Homo sapiens: one gene and its partner. The protein of the gene in region 1 purifies or fractionates together with the protein of each later gene. This does not show direct contact. Each region holds a gene or a part of one and is shown in the gene's direction. Other genes may lie near its edges.

The links.
Region 2: the proteins of DGAT2 (region 1) and SLC27A1 purify together in Homo sapiens (affinity purification with western blotting, with the first as the bait; one study listed by BioGRID). This does not show direct contact.

What each region holds. Positions count from the first base shown.
Region 1 is NC_000011.10:75,767,220-75,770,964, forward strand, and holds the start of DGAT2 (diacylglycerol O-acyltransferase 2), read left to right. Parts: upstream 1-1,558; 5' UTR 1,559-1,772; coding exon 1,773-1,893; intron 1,894-3,745. UniProt on the Homo sapiens protein: Essential acyltransferase that catalyzes the terminal and only committed step in triacylglycerol synthesis by using diacylglycerol and fatty acyl CoA as substrates. Required for synthesis and storage of intracellular triglycerides.
Region 2 is NC_000019.10:17,484,014-17,487,658, forward strand, and holds part of SLC27A1 (long-chain fatty acid transport protein 1), read left to right. Parts: intron 1-2,549; coding exon 2,550-2,944; intron 2,945-3,160; coding exon 3,161-3,322; intron 3,323-3,446; coding exon 3,447-3,516; intron 3,517-3,645. UniProt on the Homo sapiens protein: Mediates the import of long-chain fatty acids (LCFA) into the cell by facilitating their transport at the plasma membrane.

The sequences.
Region 1 (3,745 bases):
TCCTCTCCCCCTGTGAGAACATGATAAAGACCACAAAGGCAGGGAATTCCTCTCCTCTTATGCTGTGACCCCACAGCTATCTCGCTCCAGCTATGCCTAAGAAATCTGTCTTATCACTGACATGCTTGTTGTCCCCACTCGTTCCCTGAGCCTCCATCCAACAAGTCGCTCCACCACATGCTGGTGGATCTCGCTTCCTATGCTCTTCCCTAGATCAGGCCTTCCCTCCATTCCCTCTACCACTGCCGTGCCTTGAGGCTCATCCTCTCTCACATGGATCCCCCGCCCCTACAGCCTCCCCACTGCCCTCCTGACCTACAGCCTCTCCTGTCCATTTCCCATACCATGGCTAAGGACACTTAAAACCCACCTGACCAGCCATTTCCCTACTAAAGCTCTCCCAAGACCCGGCTCCCCCCCAATATCTCAAGAGTGGCACTCCCAAACCTCTCTCAGTTCAAGCACCCGCGCCTCTCACTTCAGCCTCATTTTCCACAGTTGCCTGGGCTCCAGCCACTCCAGGGCCCCCAGCCCTGCCCCAAACATGCTGGCTTTTCTAACACTTTATGCCTATCTTTCTGCTTTGCCCTCACACCTTCCATCTGCAAAATTCCTATTCATTAATGGGCAAACCATTCTGGAATGCTTTCTATGTGCCAGACACTACCTAGGCTCTTTTTATACCTTATCTCATTTACTTCTCAAAGTACCTCACAAAAATAATAATTATTATTCCCATTTTACAGATATGGAAACTGAGGCTCAAGAGAGGCAGGGCAAGAACTGGACTCCTAGTCTATCTGATTCCAAACCTGCTGTGCACCAACCTCTCTGGGAAGTGCACCAGCGCCCCCACTCCCCCAGCCCAGGGCAGAGTCTTCTCTACTCTGTGGTTCCATAGCCCCCTGGTTTCTCGCTTGTCCCGGCCGTTGTCACCAGTGACTGTGTGCGGCTGTCTCTGCTGCCCCCCAGCGTGAGCATCCCAAGGGCAGAACCTGGGCTGATCTGGCTGGGTCCCCAGCACCCAGCAGGGTATAGGTGCTCTGTGAGGTTTCTTAATAAAGAGATGGAAAGCCAGAAGCAGTTTGGGTGGTTGAGATACCCAGCCCTAACCTAACTAATCCTGATACCAGTGACCAAAAGCGGGACCTTCGCATCTTTGCTGCCAAAAGACAGCCCCTCCTAAAGAGTAAAGGCCCGACCCCCTGCACGCCCTCTGCCTGCACCGCACGTGCTTGGTTTTCCCCGCCCGGGTACTGGCCGCCGGGCCGTACCAATCTCCGCGGGGGAGCGCCCGGGGTCGGACTGAGGGAGCGAGGGGAATAACCGGGCGCGCCCCTTGGAAGCAGGGCTCAGAGCTGCTCTCCTCTCACGCATTCCCCGGATCCGCGCGGAGCAGGCTGCTGGCCAGCCCCGGGCCCGCGCCAAGCAGAGCCTCAGGTGCGGTTCCCCCACAAGCAAGTGGCGCGGGCGGCGGCTTAGAACGGCCCGCCCCGCCCGCCGCGTCGGCGCCTGCCCCGTTGTGAGGTGATAAAGTGTTGCGCTCCGGGACGCCAGCGCCGCGGCTGCCGCCTCTGCTGGGGTCTAGGCTGTTTCTCTCGCGCCACCACTGGCCGCCGGCCGCAGCTCCAGGTGTCCTAGCCGCCCAGCCTCGACGCCGTCCCGGGACCCCTGTGCTCTGCGCGAAGCCCTGGCCCCGGGGGCCGGGGCATGGGCCAGGGGCGCGGGGTGAAGCGGCTTCCCGCGGGGCCGTGACTGGGCGGGCTTCAGCCATGAAGACCCTCATAGCCGCCTACTCCGGGGTCCTGCGCGGCGAGCGTCAGGCCGAGGCTGACCGGAGCCAGCGCTCTCACGGAGGACCTGCGCTGTCGCGCGAGGGGTCTGGGAGATGGGGTGAGTGCCACGGCGCAGGGGTTATGGACCTGCGAGAAGATTTTCTGGAAAGGGCCCTGTGGCAGGCTGGTGGGTACTGATGAGTCCACGTTCATTCTCCACTGTGGCACTCATCAATTTTTACGACCTCTGTTACATCGCTTTCCACCCGCCCCCCAGCTTGTTTCCCTCATCCGTGAGGTGGGAGCGGTACCACCCACCATTCTTAGTTATTAGGGATATTCGAGAACTCCTCCCCAGCCCCCACTGCGGCTGGTGACCCCTGGCACTTCCCTCCCCTCTCCCTTCACCAGGTAGAGCGAGCTTTGGCAGTGATAGACTGGATGGGCAGGATGGTATGGGTTTTGCCGTCTCCTGAGACAGCCACCAGACGGGGAACATGCCCGACTGGAACAGGTGTGTCTGCCCTGTCCTCTGTCCCACATCCATCCTCTCGCCCAGGCTCTGGAGCCCACATAGCAGCAACTCTTGAGCCTGGCATGCTTAGAAGGCAGCGGAGAGGACCCTGCATGTCCTCCAAGGTAGAACTGAGGTCCTCAGTGAATCGCGCAGAGTTGAAATCAACCCCCGCCCCGCACCCCCCGCAGCTTTTCCCAAGCGAGGAATAGCAACTCTTCCAACCCCCACCTCCCTTACCTAGAGCTGGAGAAACTGAAGTGGGAGGAAGCATGCCTAAGTTTTCCTTAGCTGATGCCTTGACCCCTGGATTCAAGTACAAATCCGGTAGACCCTGGGAAGTCATCACAGCTGTCCTGGTCTGCGTGTGTGTCTTGCATGAAGCCCCTCTCCCTCTTTCTAAGTCTGTATTCTGTTTGCTGAGCCTCTCTGACATGGATTTTTCTTTAGTAACTAACGGTCGCCTACACCGCCCACCTTTGTTACAAAAATAAAGCTTGCTAATTATGGAATTTTTGAAAATATAGACAAATGAAAAAAATTTCTGGTAAATCGACTATCCAAAGATACCTTCCTATTAGCATTTTAGTATATCTCTTGATCATTTTCTTTATACACATTGCATAGATACAATTGAGGACATGCTGTAGATATAGTTATGAATCTTGTTTTCTCCCCCTTAATGTAACATCGAGGTTTCCCTTCTGTTAATCAGAATCACTTACAATGTCCTAGTGGTTGCAATAACCCACCCTGCAGCTGTACCACACTTTAACTGTGACCTAGGCATTGGCATTGCTTCTTGTGTGATTATCGCTGTGGTTATCTGCCCCTCTTGGTGTGGGTGCTGCTCGTAGCCCTTGAAGAGGAACCCAGCTGCTGCCCTGTCTCGGGGGCGAGCAGCTTGAGCTGCCCCATGTATCCAGCCAGTAGCCTCTGACAGCCCCTTCTCTCACTTGAGTCCTTTTCTGTTCCCTGTGTCCTTTGATGTCCTTAGGGACATCAATGGATGAATGGACTTGCCCTTGTTCATGCTGTTAAAAATGTTTTTGCACTGGGCAGTGGGATAGGGATGTTCTCTGTGGTAGTGCTTCCTGGAGACCCCATTCCGTCGGCTCTGCCATCCACAGGCTGGGAGCTGTGTCTTCCAGGAGGCAGTGACCCTGGCTGTCATGTTTTTGACTTAGAGTTTGTTCCTTAGGAGAACTTGTACTCTAGCGAATGGTTTTAACCAAGCCACTTAATATCATGTCAGGAACATTTCCCCATGTTGTTATCAGATCTTGAAAACTTTTTTTTTTTTAAACTGGGTGCAAGGATTTACATCATGGAATGTAGGAAGGGCTGGTATGAAATGCAAACCAGTCAGTTCAGCTTTCTGGGATCTACTTTGGTGAAAGATTGGGTGGAGTAGGGGAGGGCACTGAAGCACATTTTGTTATCTGGGCATCTCCAT
Region 2 (3,645 bases), on another chromosome or scaffold:
AAGGGGTCTCTCTTCCCAGAGGACTGTGAACCCCAGAGGGTGGGGCCTGGTGGTCTGGATGCTCTGTCCCCAGAGCTGAGAACAGTGCCTAAAGCACAACAGACACTGGTATGCACCAGCTGCCTGAATGAATGAAGGAAGGAGGGAATGAATGAATGAAAGAGGGAGTAAATGATAAATGGAGGGAAAGAATAAAGGAGGGAATGAATGATGGAGGGAATAAATGCATGAAAGAGGTAATAAATGAACAAAGGAGGGAATGAAAGAGTGAAGGAGATAATAAATAAGGATGGAATGAGACCAGATGCGGTGGCCCACGCCTGTAATCCCAGCACATTGGGAGGCCAAGGGAGGACCACCTGAGTCCAGTAGTTCGAGACCAGCCTGGCCAACATGGTGAAACCCTGTCTCTACAAAAAATACAAAAATTTTGCTGGCCCTGGTGACGTGCACCTGTAGTCTCAGCTACTAGGGAGGCTGAGGTGGGAGGATTGCTTGAGCCTGGGAGGTCTGCAGTAAGCCATGATCATGGACTCTAGTCTGGGCGACAGAGTGAGACCCTGTCTCAAAAAAAAAGTACTGAATGAGTGAAGGGGGGAAAGAATGAATGACGGAGGGAGGGAAAGAGTGAGTGAAGTAGGGAATGAGTGAATGAAGATGGAATGAATGATGGAATGAATGAAGGAGAGAATGAGGGAGGGAATGAAAGAGGGAAAGAACGAAGAAGAGCATGAATGAATGACCGAGAGGATGAATGAATATAGGTGCTGAAGTCCACTGTGAACATTTTGGGGGGTGTGAGCAGCCATTGCAGGGATCTGGGGAGGCCTGGGAAAGGCAGGGGAGATCCAAAGGATGGATTTGGTGATTTTGATGCAGAAGCTGGAGGGAGGCAGTGGCCGGGCCAGGCTGAAACAGGGGCAGGTGGGTGGAGCCCCTGCCCTGTGTTGGTCAGGGCTGGGCAGGGCCAGGTACTACAACAAACACACCCCACATTCCAGTGGCTTACCCCAGTACAAGGTTATTGGTTCCCAGAGCCAGGGGCGCAGGGTGGTGGGGCAGGGAGCCAGGAAGGGGTGGGGACCACTCATTTCTCCAGCTTCTCAACCAAGAAAATCTGAATTTCCAGCTTCTGTGATCTAAACTTTTCCTTTCCTTTCCATTTCCTTTTTGTTTCCTTTTTTTTTTTTTTTTTTGATGGAGTCTTGCTCTTTGGCCCAGGCTGGAGTGAATTTGCGTGATCTCGGCTCACTGCAACCTCTGCCTGCTGTGTTTAAGCAATTCTCCTGCCTCAGCCTCCGGAGTAGCTGGGATTACAGGCGCCCACCATCACGCCTGGCTAATTTTTGTATTTTTAGTAGAGACGGGGTTTCACCGTGTTAGCCAGGATGGTCTCAATCTGCTGACCTCATGATCCACCCGCCTCGGCCTCCCAAAGTGCTAGGATTACAGGTGTGAGCCACCACGCCTGGCCTAAAGCATTTCTTGTTTGTTTGTTTGTTTGTTTGTTTGTTTGTTTTTAAAGTTCATTCTTGGCTGGGCATGGTGGCTCACACCTGTAATTCCAATACTTTGGGAGGCCAGGGCTGGTGGATTACCTGAGGTCAGGAGTTTGAGACCAGCCTGACCAATATGATGAAACCCCGTCTCTACTAAAAATACAAAAATTAGTCGGGTGTGGTGGTGGGCACCTGTAATCCCAGCTACTGTGGAGGCTGAGGCAGGAGAATTGCTTAAACCCAGGAGGCGGAGGGTGAGCCGAGATTGCACCACTGTACTCTGGCCTGGGCGACAGAGTGAGACTCCGTCTCAAAAAAAAAACAAAAAAACAGTTCATTCTCATTCATCTAACAGCAAGTGGTGGCCCGCCTGCCTCCACACAATCATTCAGGAACCCGGCTCCTTTCACTGGGGGCTCTGCAGTTCCCTGGGGCCTCTGCCCGTTATATCTACTAGCGAGTGGGGAAGGGGAACTTGGAACCCTCCATCTGGGCTTGGCATTGGTCCTTACACCCCCCATCCACTGGCACATCTCCTGGCCCTACCTGGGGCAGGGGCAATCCCTCCCCAGTTGGGGGCACACGTGCTAGATGCTTCAGCCATCTGTCCCTGGTGCCACCCAGTGACCTGGGGGCAGAACAGCTGCCCAGCTCGGGGCTGGACCCTGGGGGTCCTGGTTAGGGTGGTCTGAGCATGAAGAGTCCAGGCTGGAGGTGCTGGGGGATGGTGTCAGGTGCTCCAGACGTCGCAGGGGACAGAAAGGAGGATGGGTTCAGGCCCCAGCTCCCCCAGGGCCACCAAGCCAGCTGGGGTATGGGGGAGGACAGGGTGACTGGTTTATTACGCTTTGAGAATCTACCTTCTTCCTGGCTGGTTGGTAAATGGCCCTTGCCCTTGGTCCACTGAGAGATCCAGCCACCAAAAGTTTCACCATAGACCTCATCAAAGCCCCTGGCTGCCCTGGGGTCCTCCAGCGGGGAGGCTGAGGCTCCCAGAGGCCAGGCGGGGCAGGGCACCAGTGACGCTGTCCCCTCCGTCCTCCCTCCCAGCGGTCTCTCTGTGCTGATCCGCGTGCGCCTGGAGCTGCGGCGGCACCAGCGTGCCGGCCACACCATCCCGCGCATCTTTCAGGCGGTAGTGCAGCGACAGCCCGAGCGCCTGGCGCTGGTGGATGCCGGGACCGGCGAGTGCTGGACCTTTGCGCAGCTGGACGCCTACTCCAATGCGGTAGCCAACCTCTTCCGCCAGCTGGGCTTCGCGCCGGGCGACGTGGTGGCCATCTTCCTGGAGGGCCGGCCGGAGTTCGTGGGGCTGTGGCTGGGCCTGGCCAAGGCGGGCATGGAGGCCGCGCTGCTCAACGTGAACCTGCGGCGCGAGCCCCTGGCCTTCTGCCTGGGCACCTCGGGCGCTAAGGCCCTGATCTTTGGAGGAGAAATGGTGGCGGGTGAGGCCAGGCGTGGGCATCAGGTGGGCGGGGACCCAGGACTGGCCCCTGGGCGGGCGGGGAGATGCTGCGCCCCAGGCCTCGGAAGGCGGCCGCCCTGGACGTGGGCATGAGGTGCACGGTCTGGGTATGCCCCGGGCAGGGAGTTGGTGCATCCCAGGCCTCGGGAGGGGGCCTGTCCGGCGGTGACCATGACCCATGTGTTGGGGACCACAGCGGTGGCCGAAGTGAGCGGGCATCTGGGGAAAAGTTTGATCAAGTTCTGCTCTGGAGACTTGGGGCCCGAGGGCATCTTGCCGGACACCCACCTCCTGGACCCGCTGCTGAAGGAGGCCTCTACTGCCCCCTTGGCACAGATCCCCAGCAAGGGCATGGACGGTGAGTCAAGGGTGGGACCCCTGCTCTATCAACTGGTTTCCTACCCGCCCAGGCCCCGCCCCCAACTTCCAGGCCCCACCCCCCAATGCTCAGGCCCCACCCCTAACACCTGTATCTCCTGCAGATCGTCTTTTCTACATCTACACGTCGGGGACCACCGGGCTGCCCAAGGCTGCCATTGTCGTGCACAGCAGGTGAGGGGCCCACAGGCATAATGCCCTCAGCCGCTGAGAGTGACCCAGGCTATCTTGCCAGCCTGACCTGCCCCTCAGCTCCTGTGGGCATCTCCATGTTACCCTGGGGACAGAGAGGGCAGCTGGTGT